2 separate regions of the Homo sapiens genome follow, and region 1 is linked to region 2. The links come from fine-mapping of genetic effects on gene expression. A gene starts in region 2. The other region holds a variant in brackets. All regions are shown on one strand. Distances are between the middles of the regions. Region 1 overlaps ZNF583 (zinc finger protein 583). Region 2 holds the start of ZFP28 (ZFP28 zinc finger protein).

Evidence for each region. PIP is the estimated chance that this variant, and not a neighbour inherited with it, causes the effect.
Region 1: its variant is fine-mapped to the expression of ZFP28 in lung (TOPMed, PIP above 0.99). The same link has a PIP of 0.9 or more in nucleus accumbens.

Annotation. Positions count from the first base shown.
Region 1 is chr19:56,416,952-56,422,196 of GRCh38, reverse strand. All of the region lies in intron 4 of ZNF583 (zinc finger protein 583), which reads right to left. Among named protein-coding and RNA genes, the nearest start is that of ZNF583, 15 kb to the right of the region's middle. The variant C/T (reference allele first, on the strand shown) is at 2,809.
Region 2 is chr19:56,535,972-56,541,216 of GRCh38, reverse strand. It overlaps ZFP28 (ZFP28 zinc finger protein), which reads right to left and starts at 2,269. Exons shown (of 8, transcript NM_020828.2): 1 at 1,991-2,269; 2 at 1,501-1,592. The coding sequence starts at 2,198. It overlaps ZFP28-DT (ZFP28 divergent transcript), which reads left to right and starts at 2,483. Exons shown (of 3, transcript NR_183967.1): 1 at 2,483-2,792; 2 at 3,480-3,566; 3 at 4,885-5,061.

The DNA.
Region 1 (5,245 bases), 120 kb after region 2:
CTGTTTCTTACTACATTTAGAATAAAGTGAAAATTCCTACCTTGGTTTATGAAACTCTACATGACCTGGTGTTCTCTGATCTTATCTTCTACTACTCCCTTGCTTGCTTACTCCACTTCAGTCATATGGGAATTCACTTTATTTCCACTTTAGGAGCACCAGACTTGCTGTTTCTCTGCCTGAAAAGCACTTTCCACAGATATCTGCTTGATCCCTTCTCTCATTGCACTTCTTCACTTGAGGTTCTGTTCACATATTACCTCTTCAGTATGGCCTTTGCCGAACATCCAATATGAAGTATTCCACACTCTTATGTTTCTCTTTCCTCCTGCTTTGCACTTCATAGCACTTAACTTATTTAATATCATATTACATGTTAACTTACTCTCTATTCTTATTAGAATGTAAACATTCATGTGCAGGAAGTTTTTTTCTCACCCTTGAACACCCATTGCCTAAAATAGCCTGGACAGATAGAAGGTGCTTAGTATCTTTGGAATAAATACTGAATCAATAAGACATAAAACACCACACTAATTCATCCTCTTATTAGAATGACATGCTTGCATGAATGGGGTAAATGTCTGAAACCAAATGGAATATTACCACTAAACTTAAATATTACAGTGGATAATGATATTTGGAAGGAAAAGAATCTGAAGGCAACATACTTAAATTGAGGCTGCTAATTCCGCTGTGCTGCCTCAGTGCCCTTCCAAATTCCACTTTCCTCTCTAAACAGTTGCAAATCACACCCATGAATGCCCTATAAAAAGTCAACATGAAAATTAAATTCTGAAGACTGATGGGTCAAAAAAGAAATATGAAATGACTGCCAAGGAGCAATGATCTAATTAAACCCAGAATTAAGTTGATAAAACTATAATAAGGAAGTAAAAACACTAATTCTCATTAGACTGAAAAGTTAAGGATAGATATTATAATCGTTACAGGCATGATTCTTACATTTTAGAGTGTATCAGAATTAGATAAAACTTGCTAAACTACAGATTGCTATACCCCACACACAGAGTTTTTGATTGAGTTAGTGGAGGTTGAGGGCTGAGAATCTTCGTTTCTAATAAATTCACAGGTGGTGCTGCTGGTCTCAAGACGACATTTTGAGCATCATTGCACTATAGCACCCACTGGAAGCATAATATAAAAAGGTACAACAAGCCAGCAGATAAAATAAAATGGAATTATAAAAAATATTCAAACATCCCAAAAGAAGATAGAGATGAGCAAATATTTTTTAATGAGAAATATTAAAGAGAAAACAATAGTAGACTCAACTCAAATTATATAAATAATTAAATATTAATGAACTCCTTATTCAGTTAAAAGGCAGAACTTATAGGAATCAACAAAATGAAAGACACAATTATATGCTGTTTATAGAAACCTCACATTACATATAAGAATACATTAATAATACAGATAAAGAAAGATGTAACATGCAAACAGTAAGCATAAGGCTAGATTAACTATATTCACGTCAGATAAAATAGACTTTAAAACTGAGTATTACCAAAGATAGAGACGTATAGTAATAAAAGGATCAATTCATCAGAAAGAAATAATCTTTAATGTCTGTGCACCTAATATAACGCCTCAAAATACATAAAACAAAAATTGAAAGTGTAAGAAATAGGTAATCCTATAGTCATAATAGGCAACTAACACATGCTTTGCTCAGAAACTGACAAAACTAGGAAAAAATAGTAACAAAGAGGATCTCAACAGGGTTAACTACTTTGATCTAATTTATATTTATACAACACTACACCAAACACTTGTACAACATGTATTCGAGTGCACACAATGTGTTCAGTAAATAAGATAGACTATATTCTGGGGCATAAACCAAGTCTCCATAAATCCCAAAGTACCGAAACCAAGATGAGTATGCTCTCTAACCTCAACAGAGGTTAGAGGTTATTGATTTTTAAATCAATAATACCTAGTCAACTCCAAACATCTGAGAACTAAACACATTTCTATATAAATCATGGGTCAGAGTATACAAGAGAAATTAGAAAATATCTTGGTTGATAATGACAGTACAACATATCAAAATCTGTGGGATACAGCTAAAATGGTACTTAAAGGAAAAATCTACAGTTTTCAAATGCTTATGTTAGAAAACAACTAAAAGTCTAAAAATCAATAATCTAAGATGTCACCTCAAGAAGTGAGGAAAAGACCAAAGTAAACTTAAGGAAAGTAGAAGAAAAAGTTAAGAAAGAAAATTAACAATATAGAAAAACAACAACAGAGGAAATAAAACAAAAGTAGGTTCTTTTAAAACATCAGTTATCAAGAAAAAAAGAACAGATATCAGCAACACCAGAGGAGTTATCATTACATAGCCTACAGCTGTTTTTTAAAAACATTAATAAATTGAAAAACTCAGATGAAACACAGAAATCTCTTGAAAGACACAGCCTACCAAAGCTGATTCAACAAAAATCAGATAACCTGATTAACCCTATATCCATTAAAGCTGTTATGTAAAAAATACTTCAGGCCCAGATGTCTTCATTGGTGAATTCTATCAAATATTTAAAGAAGAAATAATACCATTTTATTCAAACTGTCAGAAAATAGAGAAAGATAAACACTTTCCAACTTGTTTTCATAAGGCCAGTATTATCTTGATACCAAAACCAGATAAAAAAATTATAAGAAAGTAAACCCGCAGGCTGGGCGTGGTGGCTCACGCCTGTAATCCCAGCACTTTGGGAGGCCGAGGCAGGTGGATCACGAGGACAAGAATCGAGACCATCCTGGCCAACATCATGAAAC[C/T]CCATCTCTACTAAAAAATACAAAAATTAGCTGGGCATGGTGGCGCATGCCTGTAGTCCTAGCTACTCGGGAGGCTGAGGCAGGAGAATCGCTTGAACCCGGGAGGTGGAGGTTGCAGTGAGCTGAGATTGAGCCACTGCACTCCAGCCTGGTGACAGAGCAAGACTCCATCTCAAAAAAAAAAAAAAAAAAAGTAAACCTGCAGACCAATGTAGCACATGTACATAAGGCAAAATCTTTAATAAAACTGTGCAAATGAAATCTAGGAAAATATTAACAGCATGATCTTGACCAAGTAGAGTTTATCCCAAAAATGCAAGATTGGTTTCACATTTGAAAATCAATCAATGTAATTCACCATATTAAAAGGTTAAAGAGAAAAAAAATCACATGATCATTTCAACAGATGTAGAAATAGTATCTGATCCATTTATTATAAAAATTATCAGCAAACCAGGAATAGAAAGTAACGTTTTCAAACTGATCAAGGACATCTAAGAAAAACTGACAGCTTACACTGACTTAATAGTAAAAGACAGAATACGTTTTCCCTTAAGATTGAAACAGCACAAGTACATTTCCTCTTACCCCTTCAATTACACATTATATAGGAGGTCCTAGCCATTGCAATATATCAAGAAAAATAAGGTATAAGGATCAGAAGGAAAAAAAAACTGTATTTGTAGATAGCATGATTGTCCATCCAAAAAATCCTCATGGACCTACAAAATAACTGTGAGGGCAACCATTAAATGAATCTAGCGAGGTCATAAGATGTAAAGCTAATATAAAAATCAATTTACATTTCTGCCTACTAGTGGCAAACTATTAGAAAACTGAATTGTTAAAAAAAATTCTATTTATTATAGCACTCAAAAAACTATTACAGACTTAGGAAAAAAAATTTAACAGAGTACCACTACACTGGATACTGCAAAATATTCTTAAGATAAATTTTATTATTTTTCCTTTTTCTTTTTCAGACAGAGTCTTGCTATGTTGTCCAGGCTAGTCTCCAAGTTCTGGACTCAAGCAATCCTTCCAAATCAGCCCCCCAAGTAGCTGAGATTACCAGCGCACACCATTACACCCAACTTCAAGACATTTTTAAAGACTAATAAATGGCTTAATAAACCATACTTATATTAGAAGACTCAATGTTAAGAGGTCAGTTTTTTTCAATTGACATACAGAATCAATGTAATCCCAACAAAAATCTAAGTTTTTTGAGCAGAAATTCTCAACTTCATTCTAAAATTTATATGAAATGCAAATGATCTAAAACAGTCAAGGCAATTTTACAAATTGCTCTATCTGGTATCAAAACTTACTACAAAGCTACAGTAATCAAGGCAGTATGGAACTGGTGAGACAATAGACATATAGATCAATGGAACAGAAGACATTCCAGAACCATACCCACACATATGTGGTCAAGTAATGATCAGGAAAAGTAGCAAGGTGATAGGTGATAGAATTAGGAAGGGAAAGTCTTTCCTGACAAAGGGTCTTGGGGCAACTGTATATCCATATGGAAAAAAAAATGAACCTCAACCTTTACCTCACACAAGACACATAAATTAGCTCAAAATCATTCACAGAGCTAAATATAAATGCTAAAACCTTAAAACTCCTAGAAAAATATCTCTGTGACCTGGGAGTAGCAAGAATTTCTTAGATATAAGAAGCACCAACCAAGACAAATTAATAAATTGGATTTTACAAAAACTGCAAACTTTGCCTCCAACAGAGGTGGCAGCAGAAAAACAAAAAGGCAAGCCATAATTGGCATACATATAAGCCAATACATATAAATGATAAAGAACTTGTTTTAAGACTATATACAGAACTCTTACAAATCATAAGATAAACAATCCAATAAAACATGGGAAAAATGTTTGAACAAAGTTTTCATAAAAGTTATATGCATGGCCAGTAAACATATGAAAAGAGGCTCAACATTATTAGTCATTCCAGAAATGCATATTAAAACCACAATACAACCTTTAGAATGACTAAAATTAAAAATACTACTGACGATACCAAGATTTGGTGAGAATGTGGATTAACTGGAAGTCTCATACACTGCTAGAAGAATGGTATAATTCCTTCAGAAAACTGACAGTTTCTAACAGAGTTAAACATATACCTATCATATAACTCAGTTCTTCCATCTTAAGTATTTACCCCCCAAAAATAAAAATATATGTTCACACAAAGTCCTGTACATGACAGCTGCATAGCAACTTTATTTATAATAGCCCCAAACTGGAAACAACCCAAATGTCCATCACCAGGTGAATGGATAAATGAAATGTTGCATTCATACATGCAACAATACAGATAAATTTCAAGATGATTATCCTGAGTGAAATAAGCCAGACATAACAAAATACATACTGAATGATTCCATTTACTTTAGATGCAAATTAATAAA
Region 2 (5,245 bases):
CTGACTAAGACTCAAACTGTGGGAGGAGCTGGTTTATGGGAGACTCTCAGGACTTCGGGTCTGGACAGGCTGTCTTGAGTTACCCATCAGACACTCAGGCAGAGGAGTGGAGCAGGATACACAGGCCGGCGGCTCAGAGGAGAGGTTTGGGCTCACAATGTGAATCTGGGAGGAGCCACCATGTGGGTAGGTTGTACAGACAAGGAACAGGCTACTATCCCCAGGAGACAGCATGCAGACAAAAAAAGAAAGGGCCATGAGCAGAGTGCTGAGGCACACTCTGTTCAAGTCACGGAGGTAAGAACTGTGGCAAAAACTGAGCAGTCAGGAAGATGAAAGTCAGATGAGTGTGAGATCCCAGTAGCCAAGGGAAAAAAGGGGGCCTATTGAAGGACAGGGATGAGCTATTTGAGGGATAGGTAGCCACCTGTTTTGTAACTGAAGTTTTACTGGAACACAGCCCATCCATTCATTTACATATTGTCTTTGGCTACTTTAGCTCTATAAGAGCAGAAAGGAGTAGATGCAGCAGGACTTTCAAAGCCTAACATATTTTCTGCTGTGGCCTCATCCAGCACAAGTTTGCCAGCCTCTGAGCTATTTCAAATACCAATGATAGTCAAAAAAGACTAAGAATTGAGCACTGCATCTGGTAATGTGAAGATCACAGTAACCCACTCAAGAGCAGTTTGGGTAGGACAACTGGAAGCTGGTTCATCTGTACATATATTTTTTGAGGCCTCAGTGGAAGTGAAATGGTTCATCTATTAATGAGCTAGCTATGATATTTATAGGAGAAGCCAACCGAAACAAACACAACTATTTACTGGCATGTTTTAAAGCCACAAAATCAAGTGGAAAAGCCTTTCATATTGCGCCTCCTCTCCCTAAAATGTTGTCTTTCTTTACTGTGCCTCCCAAACATCTTCTCTCCCTTCAAGGCAAGGCTCAAAAATCACCTCCTTGGTAAATAGGCCTACCCTTCCGCTACAGGAGGCTGGAAGCCAGGAGCGCCTTGTAGTCCTCGCTCATAATACTTGGCCCAAGGATGATCACATTCTAGAATCTTGCTTGTTTCCTTGACATTGGGTCAACAGGCTGTGAGCTCCAGAGCAGGGACTAGGGCTTAGCTATTGGTTTGCTCAGTGGCTGGCACAAAGTGGTCACCAAACAAACCATGTATAGCAGAAGAGTCTGCCGTGTTCCTCAAGGGGCACAATTCCTCCATCAGAGTCCCTCTGAGAAAAGCGGTACAAGGGAGAGGCTGAATCATTTCATCAATCAAGAATGAAGGCTGATTGGGATGAAGAAGAAGCAGGCATCGAGGCCCCGGGCAGTTTAAACTTTTCCCCGTAGCCCATCACTTCACTAGAACGTGAAGAAATAGAAACCCGCGCCCAAACAGGTCTCTTAAACTGAAAACTTTCAAGAAAATAAGCAACATTAAGTCCCGAAAAGCAAGACTGCATTTCAGAGACAAGAGATGAAATGCCAACTCACCTGGGACATGGCTTTAGGTTCAATTCCTGTCCCCACAGCCTCCAGCTTCTTGTTTCTCTCCTGGGGAAGAGCAGTGTCCCTGGAAGGCAGAGCTGAAAGAGAAAGGAGTAGCTAGAGACCAGGTCTACACCACAGTCCCAAATCACCAGCCTAGAAACGTCCCTTCCTGCATGAAAAGGTGGGATCAGATCATTACCCTGCCTAGGGACTGCCACAACGTGGAGATAGGTTTTTTTCCTCCCTGGGAGCACGAAAACAGGAAAAGCGTCTAGTTAGAGTCACCCTGGGAAAGTCAACACCCTTTTACCGCGGCTTGCTGCTCTGAATCAGTTGAGCTTCCAAATCTTCAGATTCTCCCACTCCACCAGCTTCAAAGACCAGGGGCACAGTTCTCCAGCAACTGGTCCCCGAGAGCCCAACCCCCTCCCAGATCTCATCCCGAGATGAATTCGTCCCTGTCCGCTCGGCCCCAAACACCTGTCACTCTCACCTCTGTGCCCAGGCCCCGTAGGGGCCGCTCCTCGCTGGCCTTTGGATGCGAGGCCATTCCTTGAGCGCGGCCTTCCCCGGGCAGGGAGGGCCAAGGTGGCTGGAGTCCCTACAGTCGGGCCTCGGCCCGCCCGGGGCTTTGTGCGGGGGGCGCCTCTACCCGGGAGCGGCGTCGGCTCGCGGACACTCGCGCTCGCCGCCCCCCGCATGTCACCCGAGGCCGCGCGACGCCCTTCCGACCGGTCCCTCACAGACCCACACCCCTGGCCACACCCGCCCGCCACGCCCAGCGAACAGCCCCGCGCGCGCTCCCCCATGGCCCGGCATCCACTGGGCCGCGCCGCGGAGCCGCCCCGCCCCCGGCCGCGCCCCGCCCCTCCCCACCCCTCCCCGCTGCCCCGCCCCGCCCCGCCCCGCCCCGCCCCGCCCCGCCCCGCCCCGCCCCGCCCCGCCCCGCCCCTCAGCCTAGAGAAGCCCGGCGCTTCCCACTTCCAGTGCGCAGGCAGCGCCGCCGGAACCGGGCGTGGCCTCGGCGCAATGCCCGCTGGGAAGCGTAGTCCCAAGCAGGGACGGATGCGGCGGCCCTCGGAGCTCAGGTTGCAAGATACGGTTTGGCCCCGGGCCTATGCAACGCCCGTCCGTCCTGCCCTCTGCGGGTCGCTCTCACTTGTCCCTGGACCGCAGCCGCCGCATAAGTGGTGGCCAACGCTGGGCCTGGGTGTGGCCGGAAGCAGAGGCCGCTCTGACTACACACCCACCCCCCAAAGGCTTCTGGGAGTCGCGCAGGCGCAGCGGCAGACCGGGTGAGGCGGGGCTTGCGGCGAGGGGTGGGACCGCAGGGCCGGAGTAAAAGGGTGCTTGGCTGTGACAGGTGCTAAGGGCCTGGGCGTCAGCTCCTTGCGGGAGCGTCACTGCCGACCGGGAAGGGAAAGGCAATCTTGGGGGCCTCCGGAGTCCGGAGGATCACTCTGATGGGTGATGTGTGTGGGCTAGGAAGGGGGATGTAGAGAGCTTGTGGGATTGTTTTGGGTGCCCCCTCACCTTCTCCCATTATCTCTGGCTACACGGGCCTCCCATCCTCCAAAATACCATTTTCCATTTTGTAACCTATGTATTTGCACGTCCTGGGTCGAAATAGTCTAACCCCAAATTTTCGTCTGGGCTGGCTCCTTTATGCCATTCACTTGTCATCGCCTCAGAGAGGGCTGCCTAACGTCTCAAAAATACCAGCCCTGGCGACCTCTTAAAGTTCCCTTCCTGTGTGAATCACGGTCTGAAGTTAGCTGATGGATTTATTCTTGAACATGTTTAGGACCGGTCTCTCCCCCAGGGGCCTTATCAGAACTGGAGAGCTTCATCCTGGGAGCCAAGGGCCTTGCTGGCTCACAGGCAGTGATGCTGTTACACCAGTCATCACAGATGCACTGACCTCTGCACGCCCAGTCACACTGCACGCCTGGTCTCCTTACTCTTGAATTGATTTCTTTCAGGTCTCCTGGCCTCAGTGATGGAATTAAGATGACTTCTATCTCTGAATCCAAGGGTGACTGAAAGCCGCAAGCTGCAGAAAGGACAAGGTCAGCATTTCTCTCAAAGCACTTCAGTCTCATAGAAAAGGCTTAGTTTCAGTCAGGTGGACCTAGCCATGTAATAGCTGTGGCAGACACTGCTAATGGTCTCTCTGGTGTCTATTTTGCACTCCTTCCACAGCAGAACATTGATGCTCTTCAAGTGGCCATCTGCCCAGCTTATAATACTCACCTCCCCAGTCTCCTTGTAAGGAGTAGTGGCTCTGTAACCAATGAATTTTAAGTACACATTTGCTGGGGGTTTGGTGGATGTGTGGAAAGAGACACAGCTGGCATGTAACTCTGGCCTTTTGTCATCTCACACAACCTTCTTCCTGCTTGGGTATGACACAGGATGTCAACAGGTAGAACAGCTGTAGAGAGCTGGCAAAGGGATCGTGGCCAACTCAACATTCCACTGGAGGCTATATGATCAAACAGCAAACTGTTTATCATGAATGCAGAATGTGGGCAAAGTCGCTTCTGCTCCAGCCACCAGAAGGTTTGCTGAAGGCAATCACTCCCTGGTGTCATGCTCCTTGAGGTTATCTAATGGGACATCTAGAGCCTATTGGTTGACGAATGCAGTCTTGCAAGCCTGCTGTAAATCAAGCTACTGACCGACAACCACCCCCCTTCTCCCTATTCACTCTAATAAATACGAAGGGCTGTAAAGGCTCAGGGCCTGTGTTCACTGGAAGCAAGGAGCCCCCAGACCTCTTCTTCCAAATATACTCTTTTGTCTTTGTCTTTATTCCCATGTTTGTCATCCTTTGTTCAGTCCAACAAGGATAGGGTCCGCTGCAAACAGCCACCTTGGCATCATGAGGATGAAAGTTATGCTAAAGATGGCTTAGCAGAAAAAAAGAGAAATAAACAATCAAAGAAATGGTATTAGAAATGAAAAAGTGGACATAATCACAGAAATTTTTAGAATTTTGCAAATACTGTGATCACCTTATCTCAATATATTTAAAACATATGCAGGGGCTTACCATAGAGAAAATTATAAGTACCAAAACTGACTCAAGAAGAAATGGAAAATCATTAAATAAGTTCTCAGGCTTTTCCATGAATACCAAAGCAATAAATAATCCTTATCCTATAAAACTATACTGGAGAATTTAAAACTAGACACCCTTGATACCAAAACTGGACAAGGACAGTAGGGAAAGAATTTAAGTAGGGAAAGAATTCCAATCTTCAGGGACAACATACACATTAAAATCCTACCTAAAGTGACAATAAACAAAGTCCAGCAATACATAGAAAAATATGTCATGTCCAAGGAAGATATGTCAGAATACTTTCATGTTCTGGAATGTAGAGGCATCACCTATGTGGATAAAGACAGCATCCTGAGTTGATGGAGAAATGGCATAGAAGGAACCAGGTCCTTTGATGACATCATGGAGCAAAGCTGTCTTCTTGCCTTGACCTGCTACCTACCTACATGGGAAGCTGTTACTTGAGAAGGCAATAAAATCTATCTTCTTTATTGACAGAGTTGACAATACCTTTTTTATCTTATTGTAGCAGTCACTTATCCTCAAATGACTGCTATATCCTATTTTCCTATTATATGGGGCTATATGCGTCCTTGTTCATATTTAGCAGAGAAGCAACAGAAGCACACTAAAGAATTATGAAGAAAAATATTTCAATATATCCAAATTTTTAGAGAGCTA